Linked DNA regions of Homo sapiens. The protein of the gene in region 2 interacts with the protein of the main gene of each other region in a biochemical or structural test. Each region holds a gene or a part of one and is shown on either strand. Other genes may lie near its edges. The genes, in order: MECP2, SPI1, IRF8 and IRF1.

Region 1 (7,188 bases), on a different chromosome or scaffold from region 2:
GTCAGGCTGAGGCCCATTCTGCTGGTTGGTGCCTGGGCCTGAGTCACCATCTAGAACATTCCCAAGTTTGAACTCAGGTACGGTGCTCAGTCTCTCCAGGAATCAGTTTCAACAAGATAATCCTTTGCTCACCCTTCTCATGGAATTAAATGAGGCTGTCTGCAAATGTCATTTGAAAACTGCTAACCTTTTTGGGATCATTTAAAAGGCAGAACTGAAACATGCTTCTTCACCCCTCTGAACCCCTAGCTCTGCAAGTTCCTCTGCTTCCGCAGCTATTCCATCCCCAGATAAAGACTTGAGGTGTGGAGAGGATAGAGGGCCTGCTACCTTGAGAACTTCCCACTCAGGGCAGCGACCTCTGTACACGGTCATTTCAAGCACACCTGGTCTCAGTGTTCATTGTTTATGTTCCCCCCGACCCCACCCTGGGCACATACATTTTCCTGCTCCATGAGGGATCCTTGTCCCTGCCCTCCCTGCCCTGTAGAGATAGGAGTTGCTCTTACTTACTTGATCAAATACACATCATACTTCCCAGCAGAGCGGCCAGATTTCCTTTGCTTAAGCTTCCGTGTCCAGCCTTCAGGCAGGGTGGGGTCATCATACATGGGTCCCCGGTCACGGATGATGGAGCGCCGCTGTTTGGGGGAGGCAGAAGCTTCCGGCACAGCCGGGGCGGAGCCTGACCCTTCTGATGTCTCTGCTTTGCCTGCCTCTGCGGGCTCAGCAGAGTGGTGGGCTGATGGCTGCACGGGCTCATGCTTGCCCTCTTTCTCTTCTTTCTTATCTTTCTTCACCTTTTTAAACTTGAGGGGTTTGTCCTTGAGGCCCTGGAGGTCCTGGTCTTCTGACTTTTCTTCCCTGAAGTGTTAAACAAGTATGTAAGTATCACAGAGAACATGCCAGTCTGCAGAACAAGTGAGCAGAGGCAGGCTTGGACCCCCACCACATGCAAGGCCCCAGGCCATCATACACTCAGATCTTGATGTCCTTCCCCAGGACAACAGAGACTCGGGCCAAGCTGGGACCCAAATATTTCTTTAGGAATTTGGGCTGTGGGTGGTGCTGGCCGGTGTGCCTGACCTGCACTGTGGCCACCCACAAGTCTCCTAGCACTGCAGGAGAATCAGAGCCCTTTCCTCTGAGCGGAAACACTGCGGCTCCTGAGCATACCACCCCAGCATGAGTCGCACTTCAAGGGACTCTGGGCTCGATGGCTGACAAGAGGCCGTCGACTGCTGGAAAGGGAGCCAAATGGGGGAGGGGTCTCCTTTGTGAAGGCCGGGCCTTGGGTGTGTTTTTGGTTTTCTAGAATGAGGCTCAATGAGGCACACAGTACAGTGTCATGGAAAGCACACACAGGTTTGGAGCCAGCCAACCTGCACTGAAATCCTTTGCCGCTTTCCAAACATGAACCCAGCAAATGACCTCAGCATTCTGTGCTTCAGTTTCCTTATCTTGACAACAGGTAACCCCATCTAGGCATCCTTACTGTGAGCATCACAGGAGAAAAGGCACAATGGCACTATATAAATATCAGCTAACTCAGGCCACAGGAAACTACCGCCTAGGGTCCTGGGGGTGATAAGACAAGTGGTCCCAGGTGGCGTGAGCCTCTAACACATGTTCCCTGATGAGGAATGGCCTCGGCCACAGCAGATGCGGAGGGAAGAGCAAGGAAAAAGGTGTGGTCCAGGCAGAGCCATACATCCCCTTCCTGCCGGTGGAGAAGAGCACCCTACCTATTCTAGTGTGGGAGGCTTCCCCGTTCTTTTCTGGTGACCGAAGCAGCTCCTTCTCTACACATCACTTTGGCCCGGTGGGGTCTCGTCAGAAATGGCCACCGTGAGGCCCCACACCCCAGCATCACTATCTGGCCATGATGCTCTAGTACTCTGTCGAGTATGCCACCGTGAAACCTCCTAGGACTCCAGAGCCTCTGCAACAACAGGGGCAGCTTGGAAAGAAGCAGCAGCCACCTGCGAGTCCCTTCGTTAGCAGTTCATTCTGGAAAAGAGCATGACTACTCCCACCCTCCGTGTTCTCAGCCCCACAACTCCCCTGTCCCATGTGGTTCACATCAGTGCTAGTCACCGCCTTGCGGCTGGTCTACCCCAAGAGACTTCCCCTCTTGTCTACACTGCACAGACTGTGCAATGAGGGCACCATGGCACTCACTGGCAAGCATCCTTAGGAAACCAGAACTCAAATGATGTAGGGAAGTTACCAAAGGCTGCTTAGTGCTGGGACTCAGAAGCTGCAAGGACGTATCTCTCCAGAACCATCAGGTCAGGTGTAGGGAGGCAAGAGATGTTCCAATCTAGTGACAAGGTCTTAGAGTGAGGGAATGTCTTGTCCCCACCATGACTCACCCCTGAGTTCCTCCCTATCCTGTATCTTCCTCCAGAAGTTTAGGGCCCAGAGTGTGGCTGCCAGAGTCACCTAGAGCCACTGCATACACAAAGGCATCCTACAACCCACAGAGCAGTCTTTCTTGCTGTAAAGAGGGGTCCCTAATCTGTCCCAGCACAGAGCTCGCCTTGTTTTGTTTTTTGTTTTTTTTTTGAGATGGAGTCTCGCTCTGTTGCCGATGGCATAATATCGGCTCATCGCAACCTCCGCCTGCCGGGTTCAAGTTATTCTCCTGCCTCAGCCTCCGGAGTAGCTGGGATCACAGGCGTGTGCTACCACGCCAGGCTAATTTTTGTATGTTTAGTGGAGACGGGGTTTCACCATGTTGGGCAGGCTGGTCTCGAACTCCTGACCTCAGGTGATCGACCCGCCTCAGCCTCCCAAAGTGCTGGGATTACAGGCGTGAGCCACCGTGCCCAGCCAGAGCTTCCTTTTCATGTCTCTGAGTCTTACAGCTCTCAATGGGAAATGACGAAGAACCCTGGAAAGCTAGGTGTGGCCTGTTGCCCACCAGAGATCAGCCTTTGAGAATGGACCCCTAGGCAGCTCCCCAGCTCCCCATAAAGGAGGGAGGGAAGGGGAGCCACCAGCAGAGTGGGCCAAGAAAGCAGACAGATGGGAATCGCTACTTCTACACAATCCATCATGGCACTGCCTAACGCCAGGGCTGCTCCCTAGAACCCGGACGGTCCTAATGTCAGAGAAAAACAGTGAACTAATGGGAAAGATCTGGCTTCTTCGAAACTCTCATTTGCATTTCCCAAATACCTTAATCACCATGAGGTCAAACTATAAACCTAAACGTGACGTAAGGAATGCCTTCTAGAAATCTATGCTAAAGAGACACCTCCAGAAATCTCAAAGAACATATGCATGATGTTATTTGCTACAACATTATTTTTACCAGCCAAAGGCTTCCAATACCCCCGATCCCTATCACCAGGGCACTTGCTGAATAAACTTATGGTGCGCCCACACACTGGAGTACTGTGCAGATCCAAAGGGACTAAACAAGAGCTCTAAGAACTGCGATGGAGTCATTTCCAGGATCCACTGTGAAGCAAAGGGAGCAAAGCGCAAACATATCTACTGCATTCTACCAAAGAAAGAAGGGGGGGTATTAAGGAAGGACACACCAGGAACTAATGAAATTGATTCCCTGCATGGGGTAGGGGGAAAAAGGTAAGGGTACAGGCACAGGAGTGAGGCCTAGCTGAACATGCCTCAGTGTAATTCTGACTTCTGAATCATGTAAATGTTTATATTACCCAAAATAAAATTCAAACTAAAAGTAACAAAACCTTATTACACTTAATGCAAATAAAAACAAATGAGTTCGGGCCAGGCATGGTGGCTTCAGCCTACGATCCCAGCACTTTGGGAGGCCGAGGCGGGTCGATCACCTGAGGTCAGGAGTATGAGGCTGCAGTGAGCCATGACTACATCACTGCACTCCAGCCTGAGTGACAGAGCAAGACCCTGTCTCTCTCTCTCTCTTTTTTTTTTTTTGAGACAGAGTCTTGCTAGAGTGCCATGGCGTGATCTTGGCTCACTGCAACCTCCGACTCCTGAGTTCAAGCCTTCTCCTGCCTCAGCTTCCCGAGTAGCTGGGATTACAGGTACCTGCCATCACGCCCGGCTAATTTTTGTATTTTTAGCAGAGACGGGGTTTCACCATGCTGGCCAGGTTGGTCTTGAATTCCTGACCTCAGGCGATCCACCCACCTTGGCTTCCCAAAGTGCCGGGATTACAGGCATGAGACACCACGCCTGGCCAAGACCCTGTCTCTTAAAAAAAAAAAAAAAGAAAAGAAAAAAGAAAAGAAACAAATTTAATTCTATATCAAATTGACAATATACCACAGAGAAAAGATTTATTTCAAATGACTTTTGACTACAGTGCTCTGCAAACCTGTAGTGGGACATATTCTAAGGCCAACAATAACACTCCAGGGGCAGTAAACACACTAGATTGGCTCCCAGGAGAGATATGTGATTCTGCTTCTGGGGCATCTTGTGCCAGAAAGCCCGGGGAGTGCAAGAGAAAAACAGGGAGGGCCCATGAGAGGCCTCTAGCAGTGGTCCAGGTGTGGCCCAGGGTGGGGGCAGTTGAGGATTTGGGGCTGGTCTAGGTGGTGAAGCAACAGAGCTCGCAGGTGGATTAGTGTGGGGGTGAGGGGCAAGGGTGAGTCAGGGACCATGTCCAAAGCCTGGGAAGATGGTGGTGCCACTGATTGAGAAGGAAAAGACTGAGGGGCCGGCTGGGTGCAGTGGCTCTCACCTGTAATCCCAGCACTGTGGGAGGCTGAGGCAGGTGGATCACCTGAGGTCTGGAGTTCGAGCCCAACCTGGCCAACATGGTGAAACTCCGTCTCTACTAAAAATACAAAAATGAGCCGGGCGTGGTGGCAGGTGCCTGTAAGTCCCAGCTACATGGAAGGCTGAGGGAGAAGAATCGCCTGAACCCAGGAGGCAGAGGTCGCAGTGAGCTGAGATCGCAAGACTCCGTCTCAAAAAAACAAAAACAAAAACAAAACCACTGGAGCGGCAGGGGAGCAACACCCACAGAGACAGTTATACCATCAAGGAGAGAAAACAGTTCTTCAGCTACTCGCTAGAAAGGGGGGAAACCCCGCTGTGATCAGATTCTGAGTTGGGCCTGAATGAAAATGAACTGTCTGCTTGGGGTTTTAAAGGCTTTTTATTGTGGTAAAATATACAAAACAGGTCAGGTGTGGTGGCTTACACTTGTAATCCCAGCACTTTGGGAGGTGAGGCAGGTGGATCGCTTGAGCTCAGGAGTTTGAGACCAGCCTGGGCAACATAGCAAAACCCTGTCTCTACAAAAAAAAAAAAAAAAAAAAAAAATTAGCTGGGCATGGTGGTGTGTGCCTGTAATCCTAGCTACTCGGGAGGCTGAGGCAGGAGGATCACTTGAGCCTAGGAAGTTGAGGCTGCAGTGAGCCGTTGATCATGCCACTGCACTCCTGCCTGGGCGAACAAACCAGACACATATATGTCTCAAAAAAAAATACATATATATATATATATATATATATATATATATATATATATATACACACACACACAAAACAAAGTTTACCTTTTTAACTATTTCTAAGTGTACAATGAATGAACTTTTTTTTTTTTTTTTTTGAGACGGAGTCTTGCTCTGTCACCCATGCTGGGGTGTGGTGGCGCAATCTCGGCTTACTGCATACAGGCTCTGCCTCCCTCCTGAGTTCAAGCGATTCTCCTGCCTCAGCCTCCCGAGTAGCTGAGATTACAGATGCGCACCACCACGCCCAGCTAATTTTTGTATTTTTAGTAGAGATGGGGTTTCGCCATGTTGGCCAGGCTGGTCTTGAACTCCTGACCTCAGGTGATCCACCCACCTGGGCCTCTCAAAGTGCTGGGATTATAGGTGTGAGCCACCATGCCTGGCCCTAAATGAACTTTTAAGAGCACTGAAGATGGGAAATAAAGGGTCTTTAACTCTACTGTAATATTCTAGTTCTTTCTAATGGAAATTACTTGAAGCAAATATAGTATGATGATTTTCAATTCTGTGCAATGAAAGGCACATGGGTGTTTGTTAATTTGCTGGCTGCTACTTTTATAATTAAAGACAAATTTCAAAAAACCCACAAAGAAGCCTGGATTGTGCTGGGTGTGGAGTGCAGGTAAAAATGATAAAAAACGTGGATGGAGCTGGAGTCCATTGTCTTCAGTGACACAGCTCAGACACAGAAAGTCAAATACCGTACGTTCTCACTTAGAAGCAGGAGCTGAATAGCATGTGCACATGGACAGAGTGAGGAATGGCAGACACTGGAGAGACTGGGAAGGGTGGGAGGGGGTGAGGGATGAGACATTACTTAACGGGTACAATGTCCACTATTCAGGTGATGGTTACACTGAAAGCTCAGACTTCACTACTATACAATATATCCACGCAACAAAACTGCACTTGTACCCTTTAAATTTAACAAATAAAAAACAATGATAGAAAACAGGTATTCCAAATGAGTTTACCCTTAGCCCAGAGGGCCTGCCCAGTCCCAGGGTGACCTGGGCATTTGCACACCCTCACTAAGCCTTCACTGCAGGACCCAAGGGAGGGAGGCTGGGCTAGGGTGCCAGGTGACTCCCCAAGGCTGTCCCCCAGGGGGTTTATGGTGTTTGCCGAAACACAAACTTTTTCAAAGAAACCTGCCAGGTGTGGTGGCTCATGCCTATAATCCCAGCACTTTGGGAGGCCGAGGCAGGTGGATCACCTGAGGTCAGGAGTTCGAGACCAGCCTGGCCAACATGGCGAAAACCCCATCTCTATTAAAAATACAAAAATTAGCTGGGCATGGTGGTGCATGCCTGTAATCCCAGTTACTCAGGAGGCTGAGGCAGGAGAATCACTTGAACCCAGGAGGCAGAGGTTGCAGTGAACCGAAATCGTGCCACTGCACTCCAGCCTGGGTGACAGAGTGAGACTCCATCTCAAAAACAAACAAACAAACAGAAAACAAAACAAAAAAAACCCCATACACCTCTCTTCATCCTCCCTCTAATCAGAACCCCCCACACACACACAATCTTGATTATGAGGAGAACTAAATAGCTAGTTCACAAGTTCATACATTTTACAGTTGAAGTATCCTCAGAAAAACCACCTATTCAACTCCTGAGTGTTACAGATGGAAAAAAAGAAGTTCGACTAGACAGAGGAACTTGTCTGAGATCACCGTGAGTCAAAAACACACGTGTCTGTTCACCAAC
Region 2 (7,188 bases):
CACGTACACACGCACGCATGGCTGGTGGTGGACTTGTCCCAGAGACACTGCCTGGACCTGGAGTCTCGTAGGCGCCCTCTTTGGCCCACATGAGACAGCCGATCTTGTCACTTTATTACCACGCTTCATTTTGGACCCCGAATTGCGCCCAGGAAGTCCCGCAGATGTGTGGCAGTTTTTGTTCCTGGAAAAGGTGTTCATGCTGAAGATCTTCCCCAGTTCCAAGACAGGGCTTTTGGTGGCATGGGGTTATTCCCCGGACTTCAGTCTCCTCCACCACAGACTCAAGGAACCCACAGGGGGTTTTCCAGGAAAGTCTCAGGTCCCAGGAACCTCACGGGAACACAGGTGCCACTGCTTAAGGTCATGGCTTTGAAGAGGAAGGGCCACCGTGTGCCTGGACAAGTTCTAGTGTGTGAGGAATGTCAGCCCTGTGACTCTGCTGTCACACCTTGGCCATGTGACAAGGCTGTGTGAGTGTGTGTGTGTGAGACAGAGAGAGAGACTGTGGGCAGCCAGGGAGCTCAGGAACCCGTGGGAGGTTTTTTTCTTTTCTTTTTTCTTTTTTTTTCTTTTTGAGACGGAGTCTCGCTCCGTCGCCCAGGCTGGAGTGCAGTGGCGCAATCTCGGCTCACTGCAGCCTCCGCCTCCTGGGTTCACACCATTCTCCTGCCTCAGCCTCCTGAGTAGCTGGGACTACAGGCACCCGCCACCACGCCCAGCTAATTTTTTTGTATTTTACTAGAGACGGGGTTTCACTGTGTTAGCCAGGATGGTCTTGATCTCCTGACCTCGTTATCCACCCACCTCGGCCTCCCAAAGTGCTGGGATTACAGGCGTGAGCCACTGCGCCCGGCCGAGTTTTTTTTTTTTTGAGGCAGAGTCTCACTCTGTCGCCAGGCTGGAGTGCAGTGGCGCAATCTCGGCTCACTGCTACCTCCACCTCTCGGGTTCAAGCGATTCTCCTGCCTCAGCCTCCTGAGTAGCTGGGATTACGGCACCTACCACCACGCCCAGCTAATATTTTGTATTTTAGTAGAGATGGGATTTCACCACGTTGGCCAGGATGGTCTCAATCTCCTGACCTCATGATCCGCCCGCCTCCGCCTCCCAAAATGCTGGGTTTACAGGCGTGAGCCACCGCGCGCGGCCCTGGCTGGGAGGTTTTAACAGGATAGGAGGGGAATCAACTTTCCCTGAGGGCCGGCTCTGGTGCGAGGTGTTTTACAAATGTGTACTCATTCGTATCTTCCCAATAACTGTGATCCCCATTTTACAGGCAACTCAACTGAGGTTAGAGAGGCCACATATGTGCCTGAGGTCACACAGCAAGTAAATGGCAGAGCCAGGATTAGACGCTCGGTCTGTGTGACTGCACAGGAATCAGGATGGAATTGCTGAGAACACGAGCTTTGCTTCAGCCCTGAGTCCTGGCTGTGACCCGGATGCTTTTGACCTTGGGCATGCTATGTAGCCGCTCGAAGCCTCAGTGTCCTCATCTATAAAATGCAGGCCTAGAGTAACCATGCAGGTGGCGAGGGTTAAACGAGATGGTTAGGCCCCATATGGCCTGGCAGTATTATTTAATGTTACTATAACCTTTTCCTGCCCTGCCCAACCCTGAGCTCACCCCATACTGCCTGGCTGTCCCCCACAGACCATTACTGGGACTTCCACCCCCACCACGTGCACAGCGAGTTCGAGAGCTTCGCCGAGAACAACTTCACGGAGCTCCAGAGCGTGCAGCCCCCGCAGCTGCAGCAGCTCTACCGCCACATGGAGCTGGAGCAGATGCACGTCCTCGATACCCCCATGGTGCCACCCCATCCCAGTCTTGGCCACCAGGTGCATGCCACCGCCTGCCCCGTCCCCCAGGAGACTGCCAGGCCTGTGGTGGGGCCCGGGAGCTTCACAGGAAGCTGACACAGGCTCTTACCCAACTCAGCTTCCTGCCCCACAGTGCCAACGGCGGCTGGAGCTCCAACGGCTGCCGCCTGACCCCCCAAGTGACCTCATGACCCCACACCCCTTATCTCATCTCACCCCGAGTATGGACAGACCCCAGATAATTCTCGCACCCTCACCAAGCCTCCCCATCCCAACGCCTTGTTGTGGGCCCTCCTGGGCCTCACTGTCTGCCACCCCCATTCACTAGCCCTCATGGATCCCACACCAAGTCACTGAACACCTCTACTGACCCTGCCTCTCCCCAGTGACCCTCCCTACTGACCCTAACCCGGATCAGTGACCTCTGCTGACCTCTACCACCCCTACTGACCTCCAGGGTCCCTCCACTCACTCATCATCCCACCTATGAAACCCCCTTCCAGACCCAACGCACCGGTCCCTAGCATGCCCTCTTCTGACCCCAGCCTAATGCGGGTCCACACAGCACCGCTGCAGGGAGGAGAACAAGGCACCACTTCCCCGGTGCCCACAGTCCTAAACCAGGAGGCCCAGCTGGGAGGGCTGGGTGGGCTGGATGTCAGCACCCCTCGCCCCACAGCCTGCACCCTATGTGCAGCACCTCAACTGGCCCCCCTTTTCCCTGGTCTTCTTCCTCCAGTCTCCTGTGCCTGCCATTGTCCCCTGCCCTCTGCACTCCTTCTCTCCCCAGCTGACCTCCCTCCCAGCCCCCCTGAGCTGTAAGCTGGCCCTTCCTGACTCTGATCTCCTTCCCCCACCGTCCAGGTCTCCTACCTGCCCCGGATGTGCCTCCAGTACCCATCCCTGTCCCCAGCCCAGCCCAGCTCAGATGAGGAGGAGGGCGAGCGGCAGAGCCCCCCACTGGAGGTGTCTGACGGCGAGGCGGATGGCCTGGAGCCCGGGCCTGGGCTCCTGCCTGGGGAGACAGGTGGGGCACCTGGCCCTCCACCCTGGCCCCGACCCTGGCCGTGTCTGTGCCCTGCCCCCACCCAGCCAGGCCAACTGACCCAGCAGCCACGCCACCGAGTCGCGTGTGTGTGTGTGTGCATGTTTGCCAGTGTGTGTGTTTTGTGGGGCTGTCTGTGGCTGTCTCTGTGTGTGTGTATCTGCTGTGTAGTGCATACGGGCATCTCCATGAAGTGTGCCAGGTGTGTGTGTCTCTCTGTGCCATGAGTGTGTGTACATCTGGGTGTGTGTGAGCAAGTGTGCAGAGGGTGCGTGTGCACAGGTACGGGCAGGTGCATGTGTGCGAGTGGCTGTGTGAGTGGGTGTGTGAGAAGGTGAATGTGAGAGCTGGTGTGGCTGAGAGTGGGTGTGGCCATGTTTGTGTGTCTGTCAACACATGAATGTATTTCAGTGCGTGTGAGCAGCTGTGCACGTATGATGTCAGTGGGTGTCAGCAGTGTGTGGGTGTGCCTGTGTGAGCAGGGATGTGAGCATGGTATATGTGAGTGGCTGTAAGCAGGCATGTGTGAGTGATATGTGTGAGTGGGGGTGTGACAGCAGGTGTGTGAGCAAGTGTATATGTGTGAATGTGTATGTAAGCAGGGATGTGTGTGATATAAGTGTGTGTGAATGGGCATAGGTGTGTGTCAGTGGATGTGTGAGTGGGTGTGAACATGTTTGAGGGTGTATGTAAGCAGGTGTGTGTGAGCAGGAAGGTGTGAGCTGGGGTGTGTGAGCATGTATGTGTATATGTGAGCAGGTCTGTGCATGTATGTGAGTGGATATGTGTTTTAACATGTGTAAGCATGTGTGTGTTCCCATGTGTGAGCAGGTGTGTGTGGGGGGTGAGGACGTGCTTAAGCACCTGCGTGTGTGAGCAGGTGTGCATGTGTGTGAACAGGTATGTGTATGTGTGAAAGCAGGTGTGTGAATGAGTGTGTGAGCATGAATGGGTGTGAGTGGGCCGGGCGTGGTGGCTCACGCCTGTATCCCAGCACTTTGGGAGGCTGAGGCAGGCGGATCACCTGAGGTCAGGTGTTCGAGACCAGCCTGGCCAACATGGCGAAACCCCGTCTCCACTAAAAATACAAAAATTAGTCAGGCGTGGTGGTGAACGCCTGTAATCCCAGCTACTTGGAAGGCTGAGACAGGAGAATTGCTTGAACCCGGGAGGTGGAGGTTGCAGTGAGCCGAGATCGTGCCATTGCACTCCAGCCTGGGCAACAAGAGCAACTCCATCTCAAAAACAAGAGAATGGGTGTGATGTGTGAGTGTGAGAGCAGGTGTGTGTGAGCATGCATGAGTGTGAGCTGCTGTGAGTGGATGTGAGAGCAGAATGTGTGTGAGCATTTGAGTGTGCAAGTAGGTGTCTGAGTGGTTGTGTGTGAACAGGCGTGTAAGCATGCAAGTGGATATGCATGAGCAGAATGTATGTGCATGCGTGAGCAGGTGTGAGGTGCAAGTGTAAGTGGTGTGAAATATGAGTGAGCAGGTGTCAATGAGGTGTGAAAGAGCTGGTGTGAGCGTGTGAGTGATAAGTGAGCAGCTGTGAGGTGTGAGCATGTATGTGAGCAGGTATGTGTGATGTGTGAGCATATGTGTGAGCATGTGTGTGTGCAGATATGTGTGGGCAGGTGTGTGTGAGTGGGTGTGAGATGTGAGCATGTGTGTGAGGTATGAGGTGTGAGCATGTGTGAGGTGTGAGCATGTGAGTGGGTGTGAATGTGTGAGGTGTTAGCATGTGTGAAGTGTTAGCATGTGTGTGAGCATGAGTTTGTAAGCATAAGTGTGTGTGAGACTTGGTGTGAGGTGTGTGAGGAAGTGTGTGTATGGATAGGTGAGCATGTGTGTGAGCAGACGTGAGCATGTGTGAGTGGGTGTGTGCGTGAGTGAATGGTGTGAGGTGTGTGAGCACAAGTGTGTGAGCAGGGGCGTGTGTGTGTAGCTGAGTAATGTGAGATGTGTGTGAGCAGGTGTGTGCGTGTGGGGCTGAGTAACGTGAGATGTGTGTAAGCAGGTGTGTGCGTGCAAGTGTGTGTGAGGTGTGGGTAGGTGCGATCATATGTGAGTGGATATGTGTGAGTGAATGGTGTGGTGTAAGCATGTGTGTGTGAGCAGGGGCATGTGTGTGCAAGGGTGAGCAATGTAAGGTGTGAGGGTGAGCAGTGTAAGATGTGTAAGCAGGTGTGTTTGTGCAAGCATGTGTAAGCAAGTATAAGCAGGTGTGATTATGAGACCTGGTGTGAGGTGTATGAGCAGGTGTGTGAACATGAGTGTGTGAACCTGGTGTGAGGTGTGTGTGAGCAGGTGTGAGTGGGCATATGAGTGTGAGAAGGTGCATTGGGTGTGACCGTGTGTGGGGGCAGTAAGTGGGTCTGAGTGTGTGTGCATGTGTGTGAGTGGGTGCATTGGGTGGGTGTGAGTGTGCATGTGAGTGGGTGTGAATGAGGTGTGAGCATGAGTGGGTGTGACCAGGTGTGTGTGAGTGGGTTGTGAATGTGTAAGCAGATGCAGTGTGGGTTTGAACATGTGGGTGGGTGCAAGCATGTGAGTGGGTGTGTCGTGTGGGTGCCAGTGTGTGGGGGCATGTTAGTGAATGAGTGTGTGAGCATGTGTGTGAGTGTGAGCTGGTGCATTGTGTGGGTGTGTGAGAAAGTGACAGTGTGTGAGGGCAGATGTGGGTGTGAATGTGCAAGTGGGTGGGTGTGGGTGCAATCTGGCGTTTGGGTGCATTGCACAAGCATGTGTGTGAGCATGTGGGTGTGAGTCTGTGAGCACGTGCATTGTGTGTGCATGTGTGTGACAGCATGTGTGTGATCAGATACATTGTACGTGTGAGCGTGTGTGGGTGTGAGCATGAGTGAGTGGTTGCATTGTGTTTAAGCATGAGTGTGAGTGGGTGTGAGAAGGTGCGTTGTGTGAGCACGTGTGTGAGTGGGTGTGGGCGTGATGTGTGAGCATGTGTAAGGAGGTGTGGGTGCGTTATGTGGATGTGAGCATGTGTGTGTACTTGGTGCACTGTGTGGGTGCGAGTGTGTGCGCGTGGGGGGGGTGAGTGCGTGGGTGTGAGTGGGTGTGTGTGAACGCCTGTGTGTGCGCAAGCATGTGTGTGTGTGTGAGTGTGGGTGCGTTGTGTATGCACGCCCGGCGCGGGCTGGGGCAGCCGTTCCCCTGCCCTTCCCGGCCACCCCGTCCCCGGGCCCCTGTGCGTACGCAAGGCGGTGGGGGCGGCTCCCATGTGGGCCCCGGGCCCCCTCCCACCGGGCCCTCCCCCCCGCAGGCAGCAAGAAGAAGATCCGCCTGTACCAGTTCCTGTTGGACCTGCTCCGCAGCGGCGACATGAAGGACAGCATCTGGTGGGTGGACAAGGACAAGGGCACCTTCCAGTTCTCGTCCAAGCACAAGGAGGCGCTGGCGCACCGCTGGGGCATCCAGAAGGGCAACCGCAAGAAGATGACCTACCAGAAGATGGCGCGCGCGCTGCGCAACTACGGCAAGACGGGCGAGGTCAAGAAGGTGAAGAAGAAGCTCACCTACCAGTTCAGCGGCGAAGTGCTGGGCCGCGGGGGCCTGGCCGAGCGGCGCCACCCGCCCCACTGAGCCCGCAGCCCCCGCCGGGCCCCGCCAGGCCTCCCCGCTGGCCATAGCATTAAGCCCTCGCCCGGCCCGGACACAGGGAGGACGCTCCCGGGGCCCAGAGGCAGGACTGTGGCGGGCCGGGCCTCGCCTCACCCGCCCCCTCCCCCCACTCCAGGCCCCCTCCACATCCCGCTTCGCCTCCCTCCAGGACTCCACCCCGGCTCCCGGACGCCAGCTGGGCGTCAGACCCCACCGGGGCAACCTTGCAGAGGACGACCCGGGGTACTGCCTTGGGAGTCTCAAGTCCGTATGTAAATCAGATCTCCCCTCTCACCCCTCCCACCCATTAACCTCCTCCCAAAAAACAAGTAAAGTTATTCTCAATCCATCCTCTTGCAGCACAGAGTCTCTTTTAAAATTTGTTGTGTATCTCTTTTGGCCCCTGTGTGCTGCGACGTCTCTTTTTGTCATTTGTCCATCGGGTGTTTACCGAGGACTGTACCCAATGCTGGACCCTGGGAACATGAGGACCAATGACACAGAGCGCCTGAACAGGAGTTAGAGTTTGGTGGAAAGAACAAGTCCTCAATTGTGATTAGGAGAGCAGATCCTATTTAAAAGCTCTCTACTCCTGATAGTTGTTGTTTTTAAGCCTTGATGAGGTTTGAACTCATGATGATGATGATGATGATGATGATGACCATGACCAGCAACAACATTTGATATTCTGGTCAATTA
Region 3 (6,871 bases), on a different chromosome or scaffold from region 2:
GTTCACTGGGCTCCTCTTCCAGAACATGTCCCACTCTAGGGACCTAACCATCCCAGGGCACCCAAAGACATCCTTTGGAAGAACACTCTCACCCAAGCAGACAGCTTCCCCAACAGCACAGAGAAAGAGAGAGAGAACTAGCATGACCTATCGACTTAGAGCCAACATTTCCAAGAACAGTGCTGGAAATCCCCAAGACAGCTGGATAGACGCCCACCCAAAAAAAAAAAAAAATAGCATTTTTGTTCTTCTGATTAAAATGTGACCTCTTTGGGCAAACGAGTTTGAAACAATCAGCAGTAACAAGACATAACATCCCAAAATATGGTAGAGCCACACTGGTCCAGAAAGCAAAATATCAATCAGAACCTTCACAAGAAGTACGCATTCTGGAAACTTCAGCCACCCTGCAGGTGGCCATGAGACGGGAAACAGGGCCAGGTCCCAGGGAGGAGGAGGTGGGATTTCTTAAATTCCCCATCCAACAACCTCAGTTGTGCGTTTATGGATTTAAAAGGGGATGAGTTCAATTTTTTTTTCTTTAGAGACAGGGTCTTGCTCTGTCACCCAGGCAGGAGTGCAGTGGTGCCATCATAGCTCGCGGCAGCCTGGAACTCCTGGGCTTAAGCGATCTTCCTGCCTCAGCCCCTTGAGTACCTGGAACTACAGACATATGCCACCACACCCAGATATACATTTTAGAGACAGGATCTCGCTATGTTGCCCAGTCTGGTCTTGAACTCTCGGCCTCAAGTGATCCTCCCACATCAGCCTCCTAAAGTGCTGTGATTACAGGTGTGAGCCACTGCGCCCACCCAAATTAGACCTTGGTTTGAAAACTCTGAACTCTGGCAAAGGCTTTTCTCTAACCAGACCTTGTGACGTCACTTGAACCTCTCCCTGAGGCTTCCTCACCTGTAAGTTGAGAGGCTGTATCTCAAGAGACCCAGAATTCTAAAGCAGGCCACTGTGTTTATCATAAAGAAGGGACAGACTTGGGAGAGGGTACCTGAGAAGAGAAATGGAACACCAATACCAAAGACCCCCCCACACTCCCCGAAAACAAGTTAGCAGCTCTTTCCTGGGGCAAGGTAGAAAAATTTCTCCTAGATTGAGGAATGAGCTGCACAGAGGTGGCCAGAACACAACATAGGGGTTGGCTTCTGAGACTTTCAACTCCCCTGATTTCCTTGCTACAAGTTTCTTAAACTAGAATCCACAGTTCCTGAGCCTCCTGCAACCAAAAGCAAAATTTTGTTAGTACACGCATTTTTCTAGAAAGAGGGTCAACACTTTCTTATCAGGATTCCTAATGGATTCATAACATCTAAACTGTTCAGGACAACTATCTTGGTGATTTACAGGAAAAAGAAATTTTAAAAGGAAAAAGAGAAGAGTAAGTCATAGCATCTGAAAGCTGGAAAATACTTTAGAAATCATCTAATCCAGTCCCCTCTTTATTTAAGAGAGGAAAAACTGAGGCCCAGAGAGGCACGGCAAATACCGAGGCAGCCAGCGGACTGTGTTGGAACCCAGGCCGGCGCCCCAACGCCAGCGGCAGCTTATTTCACACATGGTGCAGAGAAAAGCCATAGTTACGTTACAAGATCTCTGCACATGTGCAGCCACGTCTGTGTGTCCTTCGTGGTCTCCTCCAAGATTCTAAGTAACATCAAAAGCCTGAGATTCTACTACAGTTATGATCCATAATGATTTATTAAACATTAACAAACGAATTCCACCAAATGCCCAGCCAGGAAAAATTAATAAGTCTAATCACATGTTTATAACTTCCTCTTCTTGATTTTGAGGTAATCTATTGGCCAAGCCCTATCTGCAGCCCTAGAAATGTATACAGCAGTCAGGCTTTCCAGGAGGGACGTGATAAGAGGTTGCCCTGGGCCCACCTAATCCAGATTACAGGTCACACCTGAGCTGGCAGCAGCAGACCCCACCCTCTCCCCCGCCTCGGAGGGCCCAGGGCACTCGCTCTGGCCTAGCATACCCGCATCACTAGACCAGAAAGCACCAAAGCCATTTCTCTCTCTGGCACCAACCTTCCTCAAGTGACTGAATCACTCCCAAATCTTTTCATAGAGGAAGCTGCCGTAACCCAAAAGGACAAGCTTTGAACTGTCATTTTAACTACCAGTTCTTACCTTTGGTTTAAAAAAAGAAAGTGGGGGGCCATTGGTTGGGGAGACTTCTTAAAATTCTGGAAAATTCAGTCTCTAGTTTCCATCCGTAAAGCCTTTCACAGCTCTGGGTAAGTAACACATCTCACCTTAGGAAAGTCTGTCCTATGTATTGGGACTCATTTTACAAACAATGTTCTTTCAATAAATTTTTTCAAACAATGCTTTTGTGAGCTGTGGCCCATATACAGACTCTCTTGCCAAGGACGACTGGGCTGTGATGGAAGCAAAGGCCCTCAAGCCAGACTCAGAAATCTTAATTGACTGTCATTAAACAGAATTTTAGAAGCAGTCTGTCCCCTCCTTCACAAACTAACCCTCAGTAACGACTGGTTATTGGGCAGTTCCACAACTCTGACCCTCCAAGCATTATTCCACGTGGTAGAATTTCAGTGGGATGATAGAGCGCGTTTCAAGATAGGGGGTTGCTATTGCCGTTCATTATATGAGCTCTCCTAACGTTTTCCATGTAAACCAGATTTAAAGAAAAATGAGATTTTTAAAAAGGCATCTATCTACCAATCTTTGGAAACAGGCAAACGACAATCAACGACTTGGGCATTCAGATTGGACTTAGGTGGCTGGAAAATAGGCAAAAAGCAGAGAGGGACACGGGTGGCCACTGAGCTGCGCCCGGGGACATTACGGTAGGTAGTTCCACCCCCACGCCCCGCCTGGCGTCGGGGACCCCGCGGGACCGGACCGCGCGGGACACGGGCGCCCTACCCGCCCACTGTGCCTACCTGCCGCCGTCCTGCCGCCGTCTCGCCGCCCGCGTTCCCACGCTTGCTGCCGCGCTCCAGGCGATGCGCCAGCGGTCGCGCGGCCTTAAAAAGGGTCGTGGGGGGGACGGGCGGTGCGCAGAGCGACGGCCACACCGACCAATAGCGTCAGCTTGGCTCGCGCGGCCCGCCTTCTTCGAAGTGCTCTGCTTTCCGAGAAATCACTTTCCCGCCCCCGGCAGCCACGGCAGTGGGGTCCGGGCCTCTTCTGGAGCCGCTGGCCGAGCCCCGCTCCTCACACCTGGGGTCCAGGGGCGGCGCTGCAGGGGGGCTTTCCCAGGAATTCCGGAGGCCCCGCGGAGCGACCTGGAGGCGTCCTCCGCCTTCCAGGCCGGCTCGGGCGGACAGCCCCGGGAGTGCGGCGGCTCCCGAGCGAGCCACTAGCAACGAGCCGGACGGTGCAGACCGTGCGCCTGCGGCCCATTAATCAGAATCCACAGCCAGAAACTAGCTGCCCCGCCGGTCTCCGCCTTCACGAGCGCTGGATATTGGGCAGTGATGCCCGCCGCGCGTTATTCCACGGGGACGGGGACGCGAAGGTCGTTTACAGACCGTCCCGGGTCACCGGTGGCCTGCGCTGCCCGGGAGGGGCAGGAGAATCCCAGCTTCAAAGGAGGCCACTGCCCGCTGAGACCGCGACTGAAACAGGAGCATCGAAGGTGCTAGGCGCTAGAAGGTCCCCTTGGGGAAATTTTCATCACAAATCCTTTTCTCCAGAAAGCGTCAGCGTTAAGAGGTCCTCTGTGGGACCAGCCGCTCCTGGGTGGGCGTTAAGATGTCCCCTGTGGGACCACCCGCTCCTGGGTGTGCACTGACATTTATTGTAAAAATGAAGTGGGGGAGAGGGAGAACGACACTGGAAAAAGAAAGAAATCCCTGGAAACGGAAAAAGAAGCGTTTCCGCGTTCTATCCTGGGGAAGCCCTGGAATGGGGGGAAAATGAGGGTCGCGATTGGCTTTTATTGCCCAGTAGAGAATCACACATGGGGGCTGTTTTTTGCGTTGAGCTTTTCAGGGACCTATGAAAATGTTTGAGACTGAAAATTTTATTGACTGCACAATACAAAAAGTATACTGCAAATCTGAGATTAATAAATGTTTAAATGAAGGTCCCCAAAACATGTTAATTTCATAATTGTAATGTATTGATGGATAAATGTTTCATTATATTTTGAAACTATAACTTAGACATCACTTGGTATGAATTCCCTAATGCCGTGATTGCCGGGAAGTCATAGTCATTAGAAAGTGAGTTCCGCAACATCAAATAATTTCAAATGAAACTACTGTTTTAACACTCACATTATTTAAGAGTATTTAGAGAATATGAGAGTGTTTTAATATATTTGCTACGATGTGGGATGGAGCTTCCAGAAATCAGAGCATCTAGGACATCAGAAGTTCTTAAAACAGCTTCTGTATATGTTTACTCTCATATATTTTTATCAATGTGGCCCTAAGCCTACACAGATTTACTTACAAATGCTGTCTGCTGCACAAAGATGTATCCTCAAGTTTCCACCAACATCCACTTAAAGACAAGGGTAAGTGAATATAGGAAATCAACAGTGGAAGGGCTCCAGCACGTGTCATTGGCAGTAGGTGTCACTATGTACATTACAGGAACTGGCTTGCATTAACACTGCTCCAGAAACCCCATATTTTCCACGTGTTGGTTCCTTGCTGCCTAGGAACAATTTCTAACCAGATGTGTTTAGTTCTGCTCTTATTTAATGGGTATTTATGAGGCAACTACTATGTGCTAGATATAGTGCCAAGAACAGGAGCCCCAAAGAATGAACATAATGTCTCAATCTTTGAGACACTCCTGCCCAGGAGTATCAGAATCCAGAACCCAGCCTGCTCTGCCAGTCTCAGCCTCTCAGCCTGGAGGCTCCACGGAGCCTGCCCCTCAGATATCGGGAGGCAAAAAAAAAAAAAAAAAAAAAATCCTTTAGCGCTTGTGTGTGTTATTACTTGTCATATTACAGTGTGGTTCTATTCTTTATTCTCTGGAATTACATTTCCAATTGAAAGACCATTTTTCTGGCTGGGCACGGTGGCTCATGCCTGTAATCCCAGCATTTTGGGAGGCCGAGGCGGGCAGATCACCTGACGTCAGGAGTCCAAGACCAGCCTGGCCAACATGGTGAAACCCCTGTCTCTACTAAAAATACAAAGAACTTAGCTGGGCATGGTGGCGCACGCCTGTAGTCCCACCTACTCAGGAGGCAGGAAAATAGTTTGAACCCAGGAGGCGGAAGTTGCAGTGAGCCGAGATCACGCCACCGCACTCCAGCCTGGGCAACAGAGCAAGACTCCGTCTCAGAGGACGGGAGGGGAGGGGAGGGGAAGAAGAAAGACCATTTTTCTGTGTACACAAGATTTCTACTCACATAATGGAAACACAGTTTTCTTAGGTTTCAAAGGGCTTTCTTTCCATTTTAGTATATGGGATCTAGCCCTTTCTAACAGCTGCATATATTTCATTGTATATATTTGCCTTAATTGAGGTCATCAATTTCCTAAATTGATTTGGGTGATCAATTTGATGACCTGAATTGATTATTACCTAATTGAGCATATCTAGTGAGCTCAGATCACCACTCCTGATCTGGAAGGTGTGTAAATAGGTATGCACATATGTAAAAATCACCCTGTCATTTTTTCTTGTCATATAAATTACAAAAATGACTACAATGAGGACACATGGCAATAAATGGTATCTCATGCAATACCATTTATTGCAGCAAAAAGATGCAGAGCATGGTCCCAGATTCTCTGATCCTTCCTTCCAGCATCTCACGATCCCAGTAAATTTCGTCCTGATCTCGCAGTGGCCTACTTACCCTCCGGCCTCCTCATCCCTTCCCTGTTGATTCTACTTTGCTACCCTACCTTTCTGTCTTCAGGGGCTTCCCATTGGTAGCCACACAGGTCAACTCCTGGCATCTAAAAGTCATACTTACCAACCTCATCTCTTACACATTCCCGCAGGAACCCCTGTTTCCATGGATGGCAGCCTACCACAGCAGGTTTGGGAGTTAGGCCCCAGTTCACATCCAAGCTCCCTGACTCACCAAATGTGTGAGCTTGAGCAAATGACTTAACCTTCCGAAGCCTCAGTCTCCTAATCTGTATAATGGCATTGATGGTAATACTAGGTTAAACTCTGTGACATCACCTACATTTAAATTTTGACCTACAGAAGGGCAGTTCACTATGGCGTAACCCAATTGTTCCTGCCTCTTAGGATTGGTGGGCATTGAGTGAGATAGTATATGTGTGAGAGAGAGAGATCTCTTTCCTCCACCTTGCTCATTAGTGCAAGAGGAAAAGGTCAAATCATCACCAATAAGAGAAGTCTAGAAAAATGGACACAGTGATTCCTAACTCTAAGAATGCCAGTTGCAGACCAGCGATAATCTGCCTCCATGAAGAATGGGAAGGGTTCCTCCCGTCTGGTCAGCTCCCTAGCTCCTCTAACACCTTCCTGCCCCCACCAGTTAACAGGTGGGTGCTTCAGACTGGTTCTCACCTCCTCACTTATGTTTCCAGCTTTTAGAGACCCTCTCCTCTTCATGGAGTCCCTTTTTCTTCCTCTTCACCTTCCTTAATTCCTATCTTCCTGATCTCCAGAAACCTTCCTGTCGAGCCTCCGTACCATCTATCTTGCTTGGCCTAAGCTGCCAATCTGTCTGCCCAGTTCTTACAGTGGAGCAGGTGCAGAGGTGATGAAGCAAGGGCACCTTCCACAGCCAGCCTCAGGACCAAATCCCTGGGAGGCCTTCTGACCCGGACAGTGCCTGCTATGGACCAGATGATGTCCCCCCAAATACATATGTTGAGCCCTAACCCCCAACGTGATGGTATTTGGAGATGGGACCTTCGTGG
Region 4 (7,331 bases), on a different chromosome or scaffold from region 2:
ACAAACCCCCTGAAGCCACACACTTTCTAAGATCTTGGCTTTTCCCTTTGAGAATTTGCTGAGATGATCGACTCTCTTCTCCAGAAACACAAGTCTGCCACCAGCCCCTCTTCCCAGTAATTCTGCATGTTGTCTCAGGGAGCTCAGGGACCCCAGTGAAGAGCCTCTGTGTTAACGTGAGTGCCTCCTCTTGTCTCTACCCTGGGCTTCCTAGGCCTGAGTCCCAGGCACACACCTGTGTGAATGGCCCAGCTCCGGAACAAACAGGCATCCTTGTTGATGTCCCAGCCATGCTTGGCAGCATGCTTCCATGGGATCTGGAAGATCATCTCCTCCTGAACAATACACACATACACATAAGGCTGTGTCAGGTCAGAGACCACAGACTTTGGGGCTGAGTCTGAGACCCAGGCCTGCCCAGCCAGACAGGTCTGAGAAAAGGCTGACTTCCCCTTTTTTCCCCTGACATCTGGCTTGGACACCCATCTTGAGGCTGGCTTAAACAGACCACTCTGGATCTCTCAGGAGGGACACCTAGTTTGGATGAGCTGCAGCATTATTAGCTCACAAAGACCTCCCTCTGCCTGTTACACATGTGCTAGGACCCACACAGGGCACCCTCCCCCAAAGCCCTGGTTTTGAAGCTCTGGGATGTTTCTCTCTGGCTTGTAAGCACCCACATGGAAGTAAGAACTTCTTCCATTAGAAAGGACTCCTCAGGACACCTGGGAGCATGGGCTCTTACACAGGGGGTCCTGGTCATACCACTGAGGGAGCTCTGGGCTAGACTTGGATGGTGAACACTGTGTAACCCTGGCATTGTCACTGTATCTCTTTGCCCCTCAGTTTTCTCTTCTCGGAAATGAGAAAACATATCCAACAAAATTTTGAGGATTAAAAACCAGAGGATGTGTAGGGACACAGTGACAAATATGAAGTCTAAGGTCTTACTGTTATTATATCACTTATGGTTAACAGTAAAGATTTCTGAGTCAGACCGTTCAAGTTCAAATCTTGGCTTCATCACTTTTTGTGTGATCTTATGATCTACCTCTCAGTGCCTCTGTTTACTTATCTGAAAATGATGACATTAGTAAGATCTAACCCACAGGACTACTGCGAGGATTAAATGACACAATGTAAATAACATACTTAGCAGGTGCCAGGCACACAGGGAGTGTTCAGTAAGCATTAGCTATTATTATGAATACTATCATTGCTACTAAGTCTATAGGGTCTATGTTGCCCCAAGTGCACCAGCTATAGGCTTCTTGGGCCAGAGTGACTGGTGCAAGATTAACTCGTTTGTCCTCTGCTAAGCCAGGCACGTTTCTGCCCAGCAGCATCCACTTCTCAGTCTTCTATTTGTTCGATTGGAGCCCTGCAGAGTGCTGTGTATGTTTGTAAGGGTCTCGCTTAGAGGAGAGCAGAACTCCAGCTCTGCAGATGCTGGAAAGTCTTGCTGCTGGAAACTGGAAGTGCCTTCAGGTGGGTGCCCTACCTCAAGAAGGGAAGAAGGCAGGAGTCATGCAAGTGAGGCCCAGGCTGGGCCGTGCACACTCCCTGCATGCAGGACCCACTGGGAGAAACACCTGCTTGTCCCGTTATCACTTCCCTTTTTGAGCTGCATCTGAAGCTTTGGTCCCTCCAGAAGTACATGGGTTAAAACAGTGGCAGGAAAACCCAAAGAGTTACACTCACTTTATTAATCCAGATGAGCCCCGGGATTTGGTTGGAATTAATCTGCATCTCTAGCCAGGGTCTCATGCGCATCCGAGTGATGGGCATGTTGGCTGTAAAGAGAACACAGAGGCTCCAGTCTGGAATCTGTTGAACAGTACCTGGGCAGTGACCTGCCCCACCCGAGGTCACTTAGTTACCCTCCCCTCACCTCAGCCAGCTGCTAGGTACTACACTCAGTGCGGAGGGGAGCTGCGCTGGAATAAAACTGCTCTCCAAATTTTTTCAGCATCTTAGGCAAAAATGCTTTTGCCCCTTCCTTCAGCCCCTCCCAGCCAGTCTCTGGAGGAGACAGGCATGCAAGTGATGGCTTCAGGATTCATATGCAGGAAAAGAGACAAAATGCACAGATACCCTAATTTCAGAACTTTTCGCTCAAAATTCAAATCCTTTGGGAAGGGAGGGACTTCTTTTGCTTGATGCCAAGAAGAAATTCCCTTGACTTGAGTTGTAACCACTAGCTAGCAAAGGGCTAGCCGTCACCCTGAACAGCCCCCTCCCGCCCCCCTGAATCCATTCTACGCCTTCCTGACAGCCACAGCGCCCACAACGCTAAGACCAGGACGCTAACCCTTCCGGCCCGGTTTCCCCTCCTCTGGAGAAGTGGCCCAAGGAACACCTGTGGCGCCTCTTCCCGCAGTCTCCGTAGGTCACGATTCCCTCCAGCCACCTGGGCAGTAAGCCAGCCCTTGCCACCAGCACAGGGAGCCCAAAACCTGTCGCCTGGGCGCGGAGCTGGGACCGCCGAAAGCCGGGAGCACTGGGCGCCCACGCGTGGGCTGACACTCGGTCCCCGGCACGGCGTGTGGATGCGCGGGACGAACATAGCGGGCCACCTACAGGCCCCTGGCGGCTGCGCGCACGCAGATCTGCGAAAGCTGCCGGGCGCCGGCAGCCTCGTCCGGGTGGGCGGTCCACGCCGCGTCCCGCCCTCCCCGCGCCGCGGCCCGCGGCTCGCAGCTCCTCCGGCGCCCCCCGGAGCCCGCGCGGAGGCCCGGGCAACGCCGCGCGCCGGCGAGTCTCCAGCCTGGAGCTTTCGACCCCCCACTTCCTGGTGCCCCGCGCGCCTTTTATTCGACGCCGCCGGTGCCCCGCGCCTCAAAGGCGTACTCACCTCTGCTGCAGGAGCGATTCGGCGGTCGCGCGCGAGGGTCCCGGCGACGCAGGGGCTGCAGTGAGGGCGCGCGGAGCGCGACTCCGAGTGGAAGAGGGAAGAAGGCAGAGGTTGCCGGGTTCTTAAGGCCGCCGGGCACGGCCGGCGTGGACTGGGCACGGCTCCGGGTGGCCTCGGTTCGGCGGGGCTCGGGCGCACGTCTTGCCTCGACTAAGGAGTGGCGAGCTCTGCCAGGGCAGCGGCGCCACCGAGCAATCCAAACACTTAGCGGGATTCCCCAGCCCTGGCCGGCCCCGCCCCCGGACAGCCGCGCGGGCGCCCATTGGCCGGCTGCGTGCCGTCATTTCGGGGAAATCAGGCTGTTGTAGAGCTAGCGGCGAAGGGGAAGTACAGGGCGGCTGCTCCGCCCCACCCTCTCCGGCCGGGCGCCACCGCCCCGGGGCCACCGCGGGCCCGCCCCGAGCGCTCCCAATCCACCCCTGCTCCGGCTTGCCCGGAGGAGGGCTGCCCGGGACAGCCCAGCGCCCCTGGCCCCAGCCTGTCCTCTCACTCCGCCTTGTCCCAGCCGGCTGGCTCCTGGGGCCATCTTTTCACCCTCCTGGCGGGGCGGGGGCGGGGGTATATCTCCCGAACGCAGGTGAGGGGATCGCCCGGGCACTTGCCGCCCTCTCCAGTGGGAACACTGGGCCGAATCTCCCGACTGGCAGCCTGGCTCCTCAAGCTTGCCAGTGGGATATCAAGAAGGGAGGGTTTCAGTCCTAGCACTACCCCTGTTTTTAGGGGTGACCCCCTCCCTCCAGGTCACTCACCTGCCCTGGGGAAGTGAAGAAGGCAGAAAGCCTACCCTGCCCCGTGTGCTGTCTGGGGCTGCTGGACCAGGGGAAATCCCAACTTGGCCGCTGCTGGCACAGCCCCCAAGGGACGCAGGACCTCTGTTTTTCAACCATAAAATAATAGTAGCCCTACCTTGATGGTTTGCTGTGATGGGAAGAGATTGTAAAGCACTATGCTCCACTCGGGCAACAGACGCTGAGTAGTTTTCAAGGTCGCCGTTGCAGGGTCTAATAGTGACCAGGATGACACCCCACCCCTTTTCGGTCTGCCTCCCTGGGACTCCCCCTGGCTGGCTTTAGGGAACAGAGGAGGAGAAGGGGTTCAGAGAAGCCCAGACGGCTGAGTGAGGGTAGGGGTGGGCTAGCTCTGATCCCTCCTAGCACTCTTGCCTCAGGCCGCCTCCAGAGCCTCCCTGTGGCCCGCGTATGGGAGTTCCGCAATGGAAGCATTGCTGTCATCTCTGAGTCCCCAGGGCTTGGCCCAGAGAGGTTCTGGGCAGCATGGAGGAATTAGCTCAGGGCTGATCAACGCCATGGGGCTAGCCAAAGGGTTGGGGAGCCCAGGTCCCATGCTCCTTGGTAAGGCCCCTACTTAACTCTCGCGCACAACTAGTCCCCGCCCCACGTATAGTCCTAGAGACTTGACTGGGTGTTCATTTTCCATCCAAAACTCTGGCCCAGGAGGCTTCTTCCTTCATCTCCCTAAAGCTCCTGCAGAAGTAAGTTACTCTCCCAGGCGTGTCATTTCCTTCACCCCAGCTCTCCCTCCAGGGCAGCACCCCATTTTGCAGGCTATAAATAGACACACCCATGCAACATTCGACTTGCCAGTCACTCTACCTCCCTCCCGTAGAGGAAATGCATGGGTTAATCCCATTCTGGCGCATTGCAATCTGAGTGCTGTGACCAATGCCAAACCTGGTTCCCAGGATACCAGCAGGAATGGGCAAAACTGTCTACCAGATAGAGGTGGGTCAGGAGCTAGGAGAGGAAAGGAGGTAGGAGAAACTGAGGAAGGAACCTAACTGAGTGTTAAGCAAAGTGGAGGGCAATGACACTCTGGAATGGAAAGGTGGGTTTTGGGGTACTTTAAGTGACAAATGGAAGTGGGGACTTGCTACAGGGACCAAGACCTTCTGAGCAAGAATAAGAGAAAACAAGTGACCCCTGAGTCGTGGGATCCTTTCTTGGTACAGCAAATAGATGCTTGTCCTTCCCCTGAGAACCTGACACATCCACTGGAAAATTCAGGATGAGATTAGGGAAAGGAAGTTTGCATCTTTGTGGTCTGATAAGTTGACCACAGTGACCCTGTGAAGGCAACAGGACACTATAAAAAATGCTTTAAAACAAAAACTTAATTTTAATTCACAGATACAGGTATAAATATACCCGTATATGCATATGTATATTTAGCCATAATGAGCATCTTTCCATGTCATGAAATGTACTTATGCAATGTCATTTGTAATAGGTATACATTATTCTTTCACAAGGATAAATAAAAATTTACCCAATTAATCCCCTATTGTAGGACAGTTAGGTTATTTCCATTTTTTCGTAATACAAACAACACTATTAGCTAAATCTTTGTGCATATCAATAATTTTTTGCTTAGGAGAAATTCCCCAGTTAGGATTTACCAATGAAACTGTCATTTACATTTACATCTTTGACCTTTTTTTTTTTTTTAACCTTAGGGATTCTTACTTTATTTTGAAGCCTGTAAGAATATGCTTATTATGACTAGGGGTGCTATACTCCAAATCAGTGAAATAAAGCTAAGCCATGTTTAAGTACCCAACATTTTTATTGTAATGGCTTTTGATGAATCACATTCTAAGATGTAGAACATTCTGTGATCCCCAGCAGAACACATAGGCTCCTGTAGGCTCTTATTAATTCGGAGCCAGCCCTTTTCTTTCCCACCTGGTCTTCTGGGTCTTCCTTCCCTGTATCGGGTTGTGATTTCATAGTCCAGGACCAGACTATTGTTGCCCCAACCTCCCCTTGGGCCTCCTTGCCTTGCCCAGGTAGATGGGGAAGATGGTGCCTCTGCACTGGAATGATCTCCCTAACTCGGATGATCTCCCTAACACTCGGGGCCACCCAGGAGCCTTCTGAGCTCCCCTACATTCAGCCCCACATTCAAATCTCTGCTCAGTCTTGTCCTGGGGTCCCATTCCAACCTTCTGTCCCTGACAGCTTCCCTACCCTTGGCAGTAGGGAAGATGAAACTAAAGGGGGATGAAAAGAGAACACAGGATTTGAGTCTGAAAGCCTGGGTTCTTATTGTGCTTTTTCCACTTGCTATGTGATCTTAGCAAGTTACTGTCCCTCTCTGGGGCTCAGTTTTCTCATCTGTAAAATAGAGATAATCTCTCTCCATCTCTCCTAATTGTAAAATTAGACTATCAAAATTATTTCCAAACTGTAAGACATAAGTCAAATGAAATGTATGAACAGGAACGCATGAACCTTTCACTGTATTTCCATTATCTGAACACACTGTGTTTGTCCCCTCATCCCTGTCTCCTCAGGATACTTGGCAACACTCACCCTCTCTCCATCTCTCTCTCCCTTGCCCACCCCACCACTTCAATCTCTGTGTCTTTTTTTAAGGCCCAGAGCATATGCCTGATCTCTTCAAAATGCCCGCAAAGCAACCAACCAGAAGTCCTTTCTTTTCCCTCCTTGGACCCTTTGGTCCTTAACTTTCCTATGTTTCCTTTTCACCACTGGTCACTTTCTACATGGTGGGAACAAACTCTGGGGAACAAACTCTACATTTTTTCTGTGAGAAAAAGAACTCTCCATGTTTTCTGTGAGAAATCTAAGCAGGTTCCTCATGCCCAGCAGCTGAAGCGAGCTAGGGGTTAGCTGAGGGTAGCCAGCACCCTGCACTGTGCAAGGTCTTCCTTACAGATGCCTCTCATCCATAGCCTCACTCAATGAGGGTGAATTCATTGTGTGGCCTCTCTGTATTGGGACCTGGATTTTTCTGTGCTGGCAAGAGGAGGCTAACTGGCTGGCAGGGGCTCCTTTGAAGTGACTTCTGCAATCAGGATGCTGAAGGCAAGATCATCTCACACACACATTCACACACCCTGTGGGAGCCTCTACCCTGACAGACAATTCTTGTCCCCAGTCCCCTCCCTCAGGCTCTCAAAACACTGTTCACCCCCTAAGTGGGCTGCAGTTAGTCCTGAAGCCCAGAAGCATGGCTCCCAACATGTCACCATGCACACACACATCAATGCACAGGGCCACACGGACCACACTAAGGTGATGCCGCCATCCTTGCACTCCCCCGAAGAGTGGCTACCATGGTAGGCACTCAGTAAATCCTAGTTAAGTTGATGTGTGACCCCTCTTCCTCTGGAGTTTAGTGTTCCTTCTATCTCAGATTATGAATTCTCTCAGATACAGACATTTCTTGGCAACCTGTGGTTAAATCCTCTGCTGATAGAGATGAGTGTGTGCTCAGAAATGAGAGTTTGTGAGAGCTGAGGTGCAGGTGCCAGTGAGGTTTAAACTAGGTGTTTTTTTGTTTTGTTTTTTTGAGACGGAGTCTCGCTCTGTCACCCAGGCTGGAGTGCAGTGACGTGATCTTGGCTCACTGCAACCTCTACCTCCAGGGGTTC

Evidence for each region.
Region 1: the proteins of SPI1 (region 2) and MECP2 form a complex in vitro, tested with the Homo sapiens proteins (2 studies listed by BioGRID).
Region 3: the proteins of SPI1 (region 2) and IRF8 form a complex in vitro, tested with the Homo sapiens proteins (3 studies listed by BioGRID).
Region 4: the proteins of SPI1 (region 2) and IRF1 form a complex in vitro, tested with the Homo sapiens proteins (2 studies listed by BioGRID).

Annotation. Positions count from the first base shown.
Region 1 is NC_000023.11:154,031,694-154,038,881, forward strand, and holds part of MECP2 (methyl-CpG-binding protein 2), read right to left. Parts: intron 5,169-7,188; exon of another isoform or gene 2,231-5,168; intron 865-2,230; coding exon 514-864; intron 1-513. UniProt on the Homo sapiens protein: Chromosomal protein that binds to methylated DNA. It can bind specifically to a single methyl-CpG pair. It is not influenced by sequences flanking the methyl-CpGs.
Region 2 is NC_000011.10:47,354,510-47,361,697, reverse strand, and holds the end of SPI1 (transcription factor PU.1), read left to right. Parts: intron 1-1,657; coding exon 1,658-1,845; intron 1,846-2,691; coding exon 2,692-2,854; intron 2,855-6,151; coding exon 6,152-6,471; 3' UTR 6,472-6,838; downstream 6,839-7,188. UniProt on the Homo sapiens protein: Pioneer transcription factor, which controls hematopoietic cell fate by decompacting stem cell heterochromatin and allowing other transcription factors to enter otherwise inaccessible genomic sites.
Region 3 is NC_000016.10:85,895,291-85,902,161, reverse strand, and holds the start of IRF8 (interferon regulatory factor 8), read right to left. Parts: upstream 3,001-6,871; 5' UTR 2,939-3,000; exon of another isoform or gene 916-2,938; intron 1-915. UniProt on the Homo sapiens protein: Transcription factor that specifically binds to the upstream regulatory region of type I interferon (IFN) and IFN-inducible MHC class I genes (the interferon consensus sequence (ICS)). Can both act as a transcriptional activator or repressor.
Region 4 is NC_000005.10:132,487,691-132,495,021, forward strand, and holds the start of IRF1 (interferon regulatory factor 1), read right to left. Parts: upstream 3,084-7,331; 5' UTR 2,855-3,083; intron 1,794-2,854; 5' UTR 1,789-1,793; coding exon 1,702-1,788; exon of another isoform or gene 981-1,701; intron 336-980; coding exon 236-335; intron 1-235. UniProt on the Homo sapiens protein: Transcriptional regulator which displays a remarkable functional diversity in the regulation of cellular responses.